Homo sapiens: one gene and its partner. The protein of the gene in region 2 interacts with the protein of the main gene of each other region in a pairwise test. Each region holds a gene or a part of one and is shown on either strand. Other genes may lie near its edges.

Evidence for each region. The genes of interacting proteins can lie anywhere in the genome.
Region 1: the proteins of RHOH (region 2) and PLEKHG5 interact in binary tests that used the Homo sapiens proteins (3 or more experiments, as listed by UniProt).

What each region holds. Positions count from the first base shown.
Region 1 is NC_000001.11:6,488,651-6,496,667, reverse strand, and holds the start of PLEKHG5 (pleckstrin homology domain-containing family G member 5), read left to right. Parts: upstream 1-5,000; 5' UTR 5,001-5,031; intron 5,032-6,087; exon of another isoform or gene 6,088-6,223; intron 6,224-8,017. UniProt on the Homo sapiens protein: Functions as a guanine exchange factor (GEF) for RAB26 and thus regulates autophagy of synaptic vesicles in axon terminal of motoneurons. Involved in the control of neuronal cell differentiation.
Region 2 is NC_000004.12:40,192,622-40,200,038, forward strand, and holds the start of RHOH (rho-related GTP-binding protein RhoH precursor), read left to right. Parts: upstream 1-4,409; 5' UTR 4,410-4,679; intron 4,680-7,417.

The sequences.
Region 1 (8,017 bases), on a different chromosome or scaffold from region 2:
GAGGAGATCACCCCACCCCTCCTCCGGTTGGGAGGCCAGTGGGGCCCAGGGGAGCCTGGGTGCCCCGCTGACTGATGCCCTCTGCTCCTCCCCTGCAGACGACCAGAGCCCCGCTGAAAAGAAGGGACTGCGCTGTCAGAACCCCGCCTGCATGGACAAGGGGCGGGCGGCCAAGGTAGGGAGGCTGGAGAGCCTGGGGACCCTCGGGGGCAGAGGGGCCAGGGCTCTAACTGCCCTTTCTATCCCAGCACCAGCTATCCACAGAGCCCTGGCACGGGCGCGGCTGGCTGGGCTGGGTTCAAGTGTAGGTGGGGCCACAGTGTGTCTGGTTTAGGAGGCAGAGGGCCTGCCCCCAGCTCAGGAACAGTGGAGTCGGGGGACTTCTACAAGAACAGGGGGGTGGAGTACCCCAAAGCCCTTTGCTGCACTGTGGTCCTAGCAGCCATTCTGAGGTGACAGGAGCTGTAGCCTTATGTCACGGATGAGGAAACTGAGGCTTAGCCAGGGGAAGTGGTCTCCCACGGTGCTGGTCCAGTGCCCAGATGGCACCCTTCCTGTTGAACTCAGCCACTCTTCAGGCCTGGGCATGGGTCTGAGATGCTTTGGGACTTGGCGAGTGTGACCATGGCCCTGGGGATGACAAAAGGAGGAAGGGGCCAGTTGATCCTGGAGTGCCAGGGCTTGGGAGCTGGGAGTGGGGCGAAGTATAAATCAGGGATAAAGGGGGCAGGAAGGAGGATAATAGTACTGGCTGGGCGCTTCTGCCTGTGATGTGCTGGGCTTAGTGCCACCCGCTTTCTGTGCCATATGCACTGATTGCGGCAGCTCTGCAGGGAAGGCATCGTCACCCCGTTTTCCAGATGAAGACACCAAGGTTCAGAGAGGTCCAGTGACTTGGCCAAGGCCCACAGCTCATGAGAGATGGAGCCGGGGTTTGGAGCCAGGTTTTGCCCCTCCCAGCATGCATTTACATGACAATAGTGACAACTGCGCAACTTAGCATCTGGCGCAGGCACCAGGACTCACTGACTCCTCCTCCGGCCTTCTGAGATGGTCCTGTCCTTATTCTCATTTACAGATGGGGAAACTGAGGCTCACTCAGGGACAGACTGCTAGGAAGTGGGAGAGCTGGGATTTGAACCCAGTACCCAGGTCTGTGTCATACCAGGGCCCGTGTTGTCTTCCATCATGTGTCTCAGCACTGCCAGCTGCAGGAAATGTAAAATGCCACCCCCCACCCCCCGCTCCCCTCCCGCACCTCCACCCAGACACACACACACTCGTTCTGCACAGGAGGGCCGTGGTGAGGGAACAGGGAGAACTGCTATGGGGCGGGGCGGGGAGGGGGCGGCCTCCAGTTGCCGTGGTCACCAGGCAGGGGGGCGGTGTGATGTCAGATACAATCTGCTGGCACGGATGGTGCCTGGCATTGGGCTCTGGTGTTGGCTGGTTGCCTCTTTCCCAGATGGGGGCTCCTGGCAACAAATTGGCCTCAGCTCCCCCCAATATACATCCTGCCAGAGGCCTGCGGAGCCCCGAGGCTTTTGCCTGACCTGAAGGGGCGGCTGGGGCAATAAGGCACACTGTCCCAGCCCCTCCTCTGGGCAGCTGCTCTCAGGGGGGGTCCTCAAGCTGCTCAGGCAGGGGCAGGGGTGGGATGGCCCAGCCTTCATAGAGGTGAGGCCTGGGAGAAGAGAGCTGGTCTCAGAGTGGGTATGGTCCCTCTGCAGCCTCCAGACCTCACCTCCAGCCCTGGCCTGCCTGGAACTTGGCACAGCTGACATTGGCATCAGCTGATGAGGGTCACCCAGCGTGCACGGGGAGAGTCTGGGCCCTGTCACTACTGGGACGCCCTTTGGGACAAATGGCACAGACTCACTGTAGGGGCAGAAATGCCTGAATTATCAGAGGCATAGAGAGCCAGTCAGGGAGGGCATCCTGGAGGAGGGGGCCTTTAATGGATGTGAAAACATGGATAGACAGAACAGAGGCAAGGGCAGTCCAGGAAGGGAGAGGCAGTGGTGGAGAGGAGGTGCGGGGCACTCAGATTTGGTAAGAGAAACAAAGAATAACATTGTCGATGATGATAATAATAACCACTACTGGCTGGGTGTGGTTGCTCATACCTGCGATCCCAGCACTGTGAGAGGCTGAGGCAGGAGGACTGCTTTAGCCCAGGAGTTTGAGGCCAACCTGGGCAATATAGGGAGACCTCTCTCTACTAAAATTAAAAAAAAGGCCTGGCGTGGTGGCTCACACCTGTAACCCCAGCACTTTGGGAGGCCAAGGCGGGCAGATTGCCTGAGCTCAGGAGTTCGAGACCAGCCTGGCCAACATGGCGAAACCCCATCTCTACTATAAATATAAAAATTAGCTGGGCATGGTGGTGGGTGCCTGTAATTCCAGCTACTCGGGAGGCTGAGGCAGGAGAATTGCCTGAACCTGGGAGGCAGAGGTTGCAGTGAACTGAGATCATGCCATTGCACTCCAGCCTGGGCAACAAGAGCAAGACTCCGTCTAAAAAAAAAAAAAAAAAAAAAAAAAAAAAATTAGCCAGGTGTGGTGGTGGGTACCTGTAATTCCAGCTACTGGGGAGGGTGAGGTGGGAGGATCATTTGAGCCTGGGACATTGAGGCTGCAGTGAGCCGTGATTGTGCCACTGCACTGCAGCCTGGGCAACAGAGCAAGACCCTGTCTCAAAAATAACAGGCCAGGCGCAGGGGCTCATGCCTGTAATCCCAGCACTTTGGGAGGCCAAGGTGGGCAGATCACTTGAGGTCAGGAGTTCGAGACTAGTCTGGGCAACATGGTGAAACCCCATCTCTACCAAAAATATAAAAAATAATTAGCCGGACATGGTGGCACACACCTGTAATCCCAGCTACTTAGGAGGCTGAGGCAGAAGAATCGCTTGGACCCTGGAGAAGGAGGTTGCAGTGAGCTGAGATCACGCAATTGCACTCCAGCCTGGGCAACAGAGCGAGACTCTGTCTCAAAAAACACCCAATAATAATAATAATAACAATTATTGCTGACCGAACATGTTTACATGCCAGGCGGGGCGTTAGGCCCTCCTGCTTGTCTCAGTGAAGCTTCTTGAGACCCTCAGGAGAACAGCGTTATTCTTATGACCACATGACTTGTAAGGAAACGGAGGCCCAGAGAGGTAGAGGAACTTGCCCACATCACACAGCATGATCGTCAGAGCCTGGCCTGCGTGAGGCTTGTCTGATCAAGAGCCCTATTCTTACTCTCCAGGATGTGACTAGCGTTTTGAAGGAGATGACTTCATTTATTCATTTACCAGACCAGCTCTGAGCATCTGTCGGTGCCAGGCCCAGTTCTAGGCCCAGGAGATCTCCAGAGAACAAAGGGGATGCCCTCCTGGAGGTGACATTCTAGCTGTGCTGGGAGGAAGGAAGGGAAGTGACCCTGGCTGGCCAAACTTCCCCCCAGGCTGCCCTGGCAAAGGACCAATTTCAGGCAGGGCTGGACCCTTCGGCTTCTGGGCCCACCCTTGATGTTTTATTTGAGGCTCTCCTGGGTGCTGGAGCTTCTGAGATGAATTTGCCATCTGTCCCCTACCTCCTGCCCCTGGAGTTCCCACTGGGAGGAGGGCTAACCAGGATGGGCTTCCTGGAGGCAACTGGAGTCCTGAGGATTAAAGAGGTACTGAGATGGAGGACAGCTGAGTGAGCAGGGGGGGACATTGGGGGCTATAAGGGGCAAGCGAGGCCAGGGGGCACAGGGAGAAGGGGACGGGAGGAGGGGGAGGCAGGCTGCACTAGGAGCACCTGCATGTCCAGATGAGGGGTCTGGACTGTGTGTCATGGAGACCCCAGGAGAGAAATGGCCCCTCCCCAGGATGAAGATATGTAGAGCAGTCCACACCTCTGAGCTCCAGGATCAAACCTACTTTTTTCCAGCTGTGCGACCCTGGGGAAGTCACTACACTTCTCTGAACCCCAGGTTCCTCATCTGGAAAATAACCCGGCAGCGAGGATTAAAAGAGGCCCATATATAACATGCTTAGCATAGAGCCTAGCACAGCGTAGGTGTGCAAGGTGTCCTGGGAGTGGGGGTAACAAAGTCACCTCTAGACTTTGGGTGTGCCCTCCGTACCTGCCCTGGGATCTGAGACCTCCCCAGGCTCCATCCCAGCTTCTTGCACACAGGTGGAGCTGTGAGTTTGGGGAGATGGAGAAAGGCCGGGAGATCAAGGCAGACTAATGATATTGTGGGTTCCCCCTGCCCTCCTGTGAGGTGGCCACGGGACAGTGTGTGGACTCCCCAGCTCCTTGCTGGGCTCCACTGGGCACTGTTCGAGGTCTAGTCAGGGCGTCCCAGGTCACAAGGGGGCATGGAGGAGGACACTTGTGGCCCTGGGCCACAGGGGACATTGGGCACCACATGTGAGGGTGTTTATCATGGAGGAGGTAGTGATTCCAGCAGCCGCCATTGATCCAGCACGTACTGTATGCCAGGCCCTGCCTTAGCGCCTGGCACAGAAACCTCATCTGGCCGCCTCCCCCGCTGCGGTGGGGCCTACCCCATCTCCGTTTCCTAGAGAGGGCCCTGCAGAGTGGCGAGGTAAAATGACTTGCCAAGCAAGGCAAGATCAGGACTCAAACCAGGCCTCTCTGTCAGAGCCTCCCATTTCCTCAGAACTCTCAGGAGGAAAGGGAGGTGAATTTTTCTGCACAGCTCCCAAAGGCCTTGACAGGGAGGTGGGGTTCAGCACACTACAGGAAAGAGTTTCCAGCAGCTGGAGCTATCCCCGAAGTGGAGGTAGTGAGCACCCCATCACTAGACATATGCAAGAAGAGACAGAAAGGGAAGCGTAGAGGGGATTGCAGTGTGGAGTGGAGGTTGGATGGGAGGACTTCAGAGTTCCCTTGCAGCTTAACAATGGCCTGTGAGGTGGCAGGGATGAGTCAGGGTATGCGTGTGTGGAGGGAGGGGTGGTGAGATGAAGACCAGGGAGAGGAAAGGGTGGACCTGAGGCCCCCATGGAGAAGGGACGGGCAGGATGTGAGTAATGGGAGAGGCAATCACCTATTCTCCTGGGCAATGCTTTGGGGGTGAGCAGCGGCAGACCAGGATGCCCCAGGGAATGGCCAGGTTTGGGCCATCTCTGGAAGTGACTGGTCCCCGGAGAGAGGTGGTGGGGCTATCTGCAGCTGAAGAAACGGGCAGGGCCAGAGAAACAATGCAAGGGGACTCCTGGGTTTTGGCTAAGTAGTTTTGGGGGAGCAGGTGAAGACGTGGGGATCCCTGGCCCAGCCAGGAGCTGCCCTAGTATAGGCCCAGCCCCAAGGGTTGTGTGGGGCAGTCTGGAGGTTTTGGCCTGGGAAGGGGTCGGGGGAAGGCTGTATAAAAAGCTTGAAAGTGCGGAACAGGTTGGTGGACCTGAACTCCACCTCCTCGAGTGGGCCCCCTGTATCCACACCCTTCCCAGTCCTGAGCCCAGAGTTATTCTAAACTCCCGCTGCTGGGAGAGGGGAACTGGGAACCACTAAATGGCAGAACAGCACCCTTTTCCGGCCATATCACCTGGGCCAGAAAAAAAAAAAAGAGGGGGCCCAGAGAAAAGCGGGCTGTTTCTGGGGCACCGCGGAGGCCGCAGATCAGAATCCAGCTTTTTACAATAGAGCGGAAGCGAACCTGGCTCAGGGCGATTCCGGGGCGGGCTAGGCCTGCGGGTCTCTCTGCCTGGTCCCCCGGGGCTTTTCTGTCGCGCGGAGGCTTCCTGTCGCGGGCCCTGGTCCCCCCTAGCCCCCTTCCGGGATGGGCGAGCTCCCGTCTTCAAGCCCAAGTTAATGACCAGGGACTTTGAACTTTTTGGAGATCTGCAAAGGGCTGGCCCCTCGGGGACAGTGACGCCCCCCACCCCCTCCCCTGAGCCCGGATCCTGGATTACCCCAAGCCACCGCCCGGCCTCCAGCCACCTCCCTGGCTCCGGCGCGGGGCCCTTCCTGGGACCCCTCCTCTCCCCGGTCCCAGCCGGGCGGCGCCGTTGGTACATCCCGGCCGGTCCAGGTGGTAGCGCCCGCGCGGCTACCGTAATTCCCCTACGTCCCGCGCCCCAGTTTGCGCTGAGTCGACTGAGCCCGTCCCGCGGCTCCCGTCCCCCTCTCCCCGCGCGCCCCATGAGGCTTTGGCAGTCTCGGCCCGAGCCTTAGAGCCTTAGACACCGGGGAGGAGACCCTGGTCCTGTTCCTAGGTGAGTCGCGGGGAAGTGGGAGCTGCGCTCCGGACGGGGGGTGGGACTAGGCGCCAGGACCCCCCTAAACCGATGGACAGAACCCGGATTCGAGATTCCCACGTAGTGCCAGGCCTGTGGGTGGGTACAGGGTCCTCACCAGCTGTATCTCCATTTACGTGAGGGTGGAATGGGTTCAAGCTCCCGCCCCCATCACAGTGTCTCTAGGGTGGGTCGGCTCGGAGATAGGGCCGTGAGGAGTCTATGGGACCCTGGCCCCGGTATGGGGGGTATTGGCGGGGCAGGGGGATCCTGGAGGGGCCCGGGCGCGCGGCGTGGCTGGGAGGCTCAGCCGATCCTCCCCATCTGGCCAGTCCCGGAGTCGGTCCCAGGCGGAAAAGCCCTCTCGAGGCCGGCAGGGGGCGCCAGAGGCTGCGCCTCGGGCAGTCTGAGCAGACCCAGGCACCCACTTAGGGGTGGGGGATGCGGGAGACCCGTGAATCCGGGGAGGCCCTGGCCTGCCTTGGTGGAAGTCTGGGAAATGGAGGCCAAGAGGTCCCCTGCAGATTCCTTAGTAACTCCTCAAGTTGAGGGAGCTCGGGGGTATTTTACCATTCTCCTGCCCTTTAGCCGGGGTCCGGGCACACACTAGGACCTGGCAGCCATCCCCAGATACTGAATTCTATGCCCTCTTGGCACAGGTGGGCAAATTGAGGCCCAGTAGGGGAAGGGTGGGGGAACGTAGGCTCCAGACCAGGTCTTCTGAAGCCCAGGCAGGTGCCCTCTTTCCCCCGCTCCCTACCAAGGAGGCTTCTAAGTTGCACCGGGGAAGGGCTTGCTAGTCCAGGTGCTCCGAAGACACACGCTGGGGTCTGGGGCTGGGAACTGCAGAGGCTGGGCAGGAGGGGATGTTCACAGACTGCAGCCCCTCCCTCTTTCTCTAGCACTGGGTCCCAGCCTTGGGCATACTAGCCAGGACCGCTCCCTGGGGAGGAAGGGGCCTTCCTGGCTTCCAGGGCCCGTGCGGTGGGCTTAGCCTGGGGAGAGGTTTTCTGTGTCCCTGCCATCTGCCCGGCACAGGGCAGGGCCTTAGGTCAGGCTCTGACTCCAGGTGAGCCTCAGAACCCAAGGGGTGATGGGTGAGGCCTGGGCCTAGGGGAAAGGAGGGTGGGTAGGCCGGGTGGAGCGTAGAGAGCCGCCTGGCAAAGCCACCCCGCCCTGGCTGGCCTGCCCATGCATGCAGTCTCCACCCCTGGATTTCTAAGGTGTTGGGTGGGGCCTTGGGACTAGCAGGCTCCCAGGGGAGCTTAGCCTTGGTGGGAATTCCTGGCAAGGACATCCCTCCAGCCAGAGAGCTCGGACTCCTGGTTCCAGGCCCGTCTGCTGTCGGCAGAGCCTGGAGCTGGCCCCAGACCTGCGTCCTTTCCTGGACAGGGAAGTCCCTCTCCCACCCAGACCAGGCTGGGGCCCCAGCTCGTTGTGGGGCAGGGATGCCTGGGGGATCCCTGGTTTCCCATCTGCTTTTCTGGGGCTGGGGGAGGTGATACTGAGGGAGAACAGCCGGGTGCGGGGGTCCTGCCTTGGAGACTCCATTATTCATCAGCCTCCGCATCTGGTTTCTGGGTATCAGTTTCAACAAGCCGGCCCTGACTCACAAGCCTGGAGCTGGGGCTGGGCTGGGGAGGGGCTCCCTCCCCAGGGAGTTGGGGGCCAGGACTTCTTGGGCCTGCCCCTGAGCTGTTTCAGCTCCCTGCTGTGGAGAGGAGGTGGGAATGCAGGAGCCTGCCCAGGCCCACCCCACTGCCCTGGTACAGG
Region 2 (7,417 bases):
AGAATATTAAAGTAAGCTGTTCTTTTGCCATATCAGAGAACATTTCTGATGAAGGTGGTTTTGAGAAAGTAAGTCTTTGCTTTTTCACCTTGACCTGAAGGGGACCGTTTGCACAGGGAATCCTGGAGGGGGCATGTTTAGGGCCAAGAAAATGGGCCTTGGGGCTCTGGCTGCTCCTCGTTGCCCACGGTGGTTCAGTTCTCTCTGTGGGGAGGCAGCGGGAGTGACAGCCAGGACAGATGAATGGGGTGAATCTTGGTTCTGGTTTTCTTAGGCCATAGGGTCTTATGCAAATCATTTAACCAGCTGAAGTCTCTGTTTCCTTGGCTGTTAAAATAGGGTTTAAAGTGTTTACCATAAAGGGCAGCTGTGAGGCTGTGAGATGGGAGAATCAATCTATTTATTGGTCAGAAAGTGGTTGTTCAGTACCTTGGATTTCTGAGTGGGCAAGGCTGGACCCTGAGCCCTGGGACCTCTGAAGTGAACACTGCAGGGCCATTTGGTGAGTGCTCTGGCCGTGTTAACACGACGTGCTATGGAGCCCTTGGGAGGGCACCTCACTGGGCTTGCAATGGAGGTGGGTGGTGGCTACAGATGGCTTCCTGGAAGATGGCTCAGAGGGGGGCTCTGATTCCCAGTTACGAACTGTGGACCCATGGTTTCCCTCCTCCTGCCACTCTGAAGTCCCCAGGATTTCTCCCAACCCCATCCCAAGGACAGACTGCACAGCGTCAGAAGGGACACGCCCTGGGGCTTGGGTGCGTGTATGTCTGTGAATGTTTGCATGTATTTTCAGCGTTTGCTTCCTCCCCTCACCACTACCCCTGTCGGTTAAAAGTCTGTTAAAAGAATGAGAGCGAGAGAGAGAGAGAGAGAGAGAGAGAGAGGAGAGGAGGGGCGGGGTGGGGGAGGAGGGGAGTGGGGAGAGAGAAAGAGAGAAACACCAAAAAGACATTTTCAAGGAAGGAAGAAAATTAGATGGCAACCCCCTGTCCCCTCCCCCTAAGAAAATCCTCTCTGAGATTAAACTGTGTGAAGATTAGAGGCGTGTAGGTCAGGAGCAGGAGGAAGCCCAACGCTGGACTGTACCAGATCATCTAAAACTGGCAATTCCAGGCACAGAAAACCAGTTCTTCAGAAGCAGAAGGGTGGTCAGCCAGGGGGTGAAAGGGACAGGGGTCTCGCAGCCAGGTATGACAATGCCCTTCCTAGTCCTTTCCAGGATGGGGTGGGACACACCCAGTCCATCCTGACTCTGGAGTACGTCTCCACTTTCGTGCAGAAAATGGTACAAGGCCTGAGGCCTGGAGCTCGTTATAAATCATGCTGGTGGCGTTTCTTGCTTTGTTTCCCAAAGGGCAGAGCCTCATCTCCCCTTCTACTTAGGAGATGGAGGGGATCTGTCCATACAGGCAGCTGTCCTTGTCTGACTCCTCTGCTTTCTGAAGGGGAGACATTGTCCCCCTTAAAGGACACTGGATCTCCTGTTGGAGGGGCAACCAATTTTGAACTCTTTGCCTCTTTAAATCTTTTAGAAACTTGGATGAGAGAAACTTTTTATCCTGAATTTTCTGAAGCATATCTGAAGTCATTTTTCTTTATTATTATTATTATTATTATTTTTTAGGCTGACGTCTCACTCTGTTGCCCAGGCTGGAGTGCAGTGGTATGATCTTGCCTCACTACAACCTCTGCCTACTGGGTTCAAGCAATTATCCTGCCTCAGCCTCTCGAGTAGCTGGGATTACAGGCATGAGCTACCGTGCCTGGCTAATTTTTGTATTTTTAGAAGAGACGGGGTTTCACCATGTTGGCCAGGCTGGTCTCGAACTCCTGACCTCAAGCGATCTGCCCTCCTCGGCCTCCCAAAGTTTTGGGATTATAGGCGTGAGCCACAGCACTCGGCCTATTGTCATTGTTATTATTAGTATTATTTTAGAGACTGGGTGTCGCTATGTTGCTCAGGCTGGTCTTGGACTCCTGGGCTCAAACAATTCGCCTGCCTCGGCCTCCCAAAGTGTGGGGATTATAGGCGTGAGCCACTGCGCCCGGCCCATGAAGTCATTTTTCATCTCTGGATAAAACTGGAACATCAAAGTGGTGCTGTGGGGTGGCACATTCTTACTAATCTCCTGCTGCACTCTCCCTGCCGCACACCCTGGAGTTGCTTTTAGTAAACTCTTCGGTGAGATGCAATCAGCATATATGGAGGAACAGCGTAAGGAACCACCTCACGGACTTGTGGCTGGCTGCGTGGAGTCTAAACATGGTGTTTCACTTCAGCCGTGTTGTCTTCTCTATGGGAATCCAGGGGGCAAAGTTTCTCTTTAATCTCAGCACTGGGGAGCCAGGAAGACCTCATGATTCTGAGCTATGTGTTTATGTTTCTCCCGCGGGCAATGAGCTTTCTGTGTGGTGATATTTCCTGCTTCATACCAGTTGCTGAAGAGCATAGAACCACGTGGCATACATTCTCTGTAATTAACCTCACCCCCAGTTTTAGTGTCATTTTTGTCTTCACTTCTCTTGGCCTCATTTTCAAATTTCTTGTTTTTAATTGTTTCATTTTGCTAAGGTGTAAGTATTTTTGCCAGATGCTCTAAATCCTTTGATGAACAAAACCAGAAGTAGATAAAGAAAATATCCACAAGCTTATGTTCTGCTCAGCTGATAACATCACCATGGTGATCTGGCTTTCCACAGAGGATTTTCCCTTTCTTTCCTTTCTTTCTTTTCCTTCCTTCCTTCCTTCCTTCCTTCCTTCCTTCCTTCCTTCCTTCCTTCCTTCCTTCCTTCCCTCCCCTTCTCTTCCTTTTCCTTCCCTTCCCTCCTTCTGTCTGTCCCTCTCTCTCTTTTTTCGAGACAGGGTCTTGCTGTGTCCCCAGGCTGGAGTGTGGTGGTGGATCACAGCTCACTGCAACCTCAACCTCATGGGTTCAAGCAATCCTCCTGCCTCGGACTCCTGAGTAGCTGGGACTACAGGTGTGGTTGCCCAGCTAATTTTTGTAGAGATGGGATCTCACTACGTTGCCCAGGCTGGTCCCGAACTCCTAGGTTCAAGCAATGCTCCCCGCTCAGCCTCCTAAAGTGCTGGCATTACAGGTGTGAGCCACCGCCACTGCACCTGGCCTCCCACAGAGGATTTTCTAGGAGATAATGTGCTCTTCAGAAGGCTCGAGGATCTCAGCTGGCAGATTGAGTTCTTACTGTGCATTAACAAATTGACACATGGGTTCATGTGGAAGTCTTGTGAACTTGGTAATTGGGTGTCTATTGATAAGAATGCTCACCTTGTACCATTGATTCCCTCTACAACTATGCTGCAAGCACAGTCATCTGCTTTCACTTCTTTGAACATGCCAACCTCTTTCCCACCTCAGGGCCTTTGCACATACTATTTGCCTCTACGTGGAATGTTCTTTCCTCCTTCTCATCCATTAGAGTGGCAGCAGTACTTTAGAATAATCAGAGGGGTTTAAAATAATATTGATGTCCGGTCCCAACCCAGCTCAATTAAACTCAAATCTTTGAGTGTGGGGCCGATGCACTGATAAAATAAAATAAAAGGCATGGAGTTGACTTTATCCTTACGGTCGGCAGGTATTTTGACCAAGCTATCACCGTGAGCAGTAGCATCAACAGTTAGTTATTCAGGGATTTGGGGCACAGGCGGTTGTGACCACATCACAAAAGTTCAATTTGTTGGGTTAGGCGTTTAGCCATAACCTAAGTAGTTGCAGATGGTCTCTACACCTGGATTGCCCATTAGGACAAAACAAGTAAACTTGTGTTTTTAGGCAAATAATGAAACTCTGAGGAGTCTGAAAAAACAACTCATCGCCAGGTAACTCCCAGCCCAGGTGCTCGTCCATACAGGGGTGAACGCACGGCAGGGGGCTGCTCGAACTCTCACTAAGCCTGCCTCTGTTCTTTGCAAAATATTTGATAGTTTTTAATGCAGCAAAGCGAAGCAGACAATCCACCTCTTGTTTTCCCCAAGCTGATGGGGGGAAAGTTCTAAGGTGTTGTTTCCTAAGCTCAAATTAACCAAGATTGGTCAGTGGCATGGACTTTTTTTTTTTTTTTTTTTGGTAATTTTACTTCCATGAGGAATCATTTGGACTCTTCAGTCTTCCTTTCTTCAGTTTTACGTAGGGCTTTGCTGGAGGAAAATGGGGCTAAGGGGGAGAGAAACATAGTCTCGGAGTAGGGTGGGGGATAAATTAAACGCAAACCCAGCGGTGCGGCAAAGGCCTTATTCTGCCTCTGATCTGGGGAAGTTTCATATTCTAATGGAGAGAAACGCACGTGCACACACACCCCCCTAAACCCACACAAATGAAACCCCCTCTGCGGAGAAGCCGGCTACAGGAAATTGACTTAGGCACAGGAACTTGCTAATCTCTTTTGTCACATTCGGATTGCTCCTGCTGCCCCACACACACTAACCCAACCATCTTGGGGTGGACTCCCTGCCAGCCCAACTGTTGTATTTTCAGTTCTTCCAGTGTGAATCAGTTAATATTCTCGGGAACGAGGGAGAGGTTGATCCTATGAGGAAATCAACCACAGTGAAAAGGCTTGGGCCGCTTTTGTTTTCACCTGCTTTTGTTGAACAAATTTGATTTCCGGAGTCAGTCATTTTACTGTCAAGACATTTCTTCGGCATTCTGCAACAGGTAAGGATTTTGCTTCCTTAAAAGTATTTCTTTGGTGTCAAAAGAAATTTTTCTAATTTTATTTAGCTTTTACTCTAGGCCAAACATCGTAATGACTCTGAGCTACCTGCTGTAAGGTGTAGAATCAATTTACAGGGGGACGGGGGTCGGGGGGGTGAGTGTTGCTTTGATATTCACTGCCCCTCACCACAGTCCTAACAAGATTTTTGAAACATGAAAAGTTACAATAGTTGGCTTTTTGGTTTTCCAGATATTCTAGAGAATGCATATGCTTGTGACTGTGGCTGAGCTCAACTGTATGGGTAGTTTAAATACTACCCAAGGTTTGATGAAGTAAATCTAAAGATGCTCTAAGTTGTGCAAATATGAATTTTAAAGTTGTCTAGTTCAGAAAAGAAACAGAACCGAAGTCTAAATGATGTAGATTTCAATCTGGAATTTCTAGCTTGTGTTTTTCACCTATTGCCAATGTTAATGACCATTTCCCAAAAGTGCTCTATGATGTATAACATGTATTTTTTAATTAAATTTAATCTTTCTTCTGAGGTGGTTTGATTTGGAGATATGCTACGAGGTACCAGTCAGTAGCCTGAGTTGTAACTAAACAAAGTTTGGGAAATCACCGGTTTTAGGTGCTTTACTAAATGAAAGTTGCCATTGACGTATTCAAGCAGGCAACAAGTAGTTGGTGTCCCCTTATTGGTTCTAAGCTGGTGCCGTGGAGGATATAAGAGAAATATTTTAAAAATCTCTACTTTGAAGGACCCTATAATCTGGTAGTTGTGATAAGAAGTAAAATTTAGGAAGCAATGCAAGATGAGAATTCAGTGATGAGTGGGGCAGCACAGGCTTGAAGAGTTCTGTGAATTCCATGGAGGGGGCCTGGGGGCAAACTGGAGTTGTCAGGAAGATCTGGGCTTTGGAAGAATGCGAAGTGTCGGTAGAAGGAGAAGGGGCAGGTGATTTCAGACTGGGAGGACCTTGTGGGCAAAGGCACAAAGGCGAGACTGACCTGGAGATGATAAGGCCAGTTGAAGAGACACTGGAGAAGAGAAGACAGTTTGTTTTACACATTGCAGGAAATCAGATTAGACAGTTAGGGTGTGGACACAAAAGCGAGGACCTTGCAGGCACTGGGGAGAAGTGACCCCATTCAATAGTCCTTGGTCTCCTTCTGCCCTGCGGCTGCGCTTCCTCGGCTCTCACGGCACCAGCAGAATTCCATGTGAGAGGGAGCTTGTCGAGCGTGGCCTCTTCCCACTTGGGGCTGCTTTCTGCATCCCTGTGCCTGGCTGTGGGCCTCCATTTGCCCTCTACTGTCTTCCCTTAGGACATCATTTATGCAGAGAAAGGTTCGTGTGGCTCGGGGTACCAGTAAGACCTCCACCTCTGGTTTCTTCATTTTAAGGAGGCCCTTCAATTATCCAGGAATTAAAGTGGCCTTCCTCTTGGGAGAACGAGTTGGTTGATGAATGATAAGCAAGTCTCTATTCCTCAAAAGCCAGTCCCCAAATTCCATGAAATATGTGCTACTTTCTTTGCATGTCTAAATGAGATGGCACGGGTATGCTTCTGTTCTTTTTCTGGACGTTGTTTAGAGAGTCAGTAGATCATAATAATTCAGACACTTTTTTTCTGGACCATAAAATATCTGAACCCATATAATAACAAACATACAGCACGGTGAATAAGAACCCAACTTTTGAGCCAGATCACTTTGCATGGAATCCCCATTCTATCATTCTATCATTTCTGGGCTGTGGGAACCTCAGACAAGTTACTTAACTTCTTCAATGCTCAGATTAAAAAAAAAATTCACAAAATATCTCTAATAACAGTAATAATAACTGAAAATACCTACCTCAGAGGGTTGTCGTAGAGATCAAATGAGATAAAAATATGTAAAGCATGTAGCCTAGTGCCTGACTGAAAAAAAAATCTCTCAATAGATGCAACTCTTATGATTCTTATTAAGGACTTGGCTATTGCCACAAATGAAGGTGTTATGAGCCCTGGCTTAAGAGCAAGAAGCCTGCAAAGCTAACTCTCCTAATCCCAACATTCCTTTCCAGGGAAAGTAGGGTGACAGGTGGAGGCTGGGAATTAACGTTTTTTGAGCACCAAATATGGACAAGGCACAGGGGTTGGGTGTTTTTCTAGTGAGAATACATATGAAAGAAGGAAAACAAACTTGGAAACCGCTATTTTAAGCCATTTGGTAACAGTTTCTCTAGCTTATGAGATGAGAGAGGTCCTCTCAGTATCCGCTGCATTACTTGTGGGCCTCCTTGGTTGACGTCGCTCTCTGAACGCTTGGGGTGGAATTCTAGAGGTGCTTTTCATTAGAGGCAGAGAGCATGACCTTTCTTCCTTGCCCAGTTTAAATTAAATTATTTTATCTTACAATGTGTTAATTTTAGTGCTAGCAAGGCACAGCTAAAATTCCATTTCTACTTAGGAGTGGGGATCATTGTGGCAGTGAGTGCTTATTTGGGTTTGGGATGCTTGGATCTGGGTGAAAGCCAGGATTAAAAAGCATCCTCCTTCCCCATTCCACTCTCTAGGTTATAAATATTTTTTTGGATTAAAAGCCTCCTTTAAAAAAATGCAAATCCACCTGGCATGTTAATTGTGCAGGGGATTCCTAATTATGTGTGCAGATGACGTGAGTCACACGGTGATAGTGTTCCTTCTAGAGTCCCACTGGTGTCCTAAGGGAGGAGACTCTGGAGCTTTGT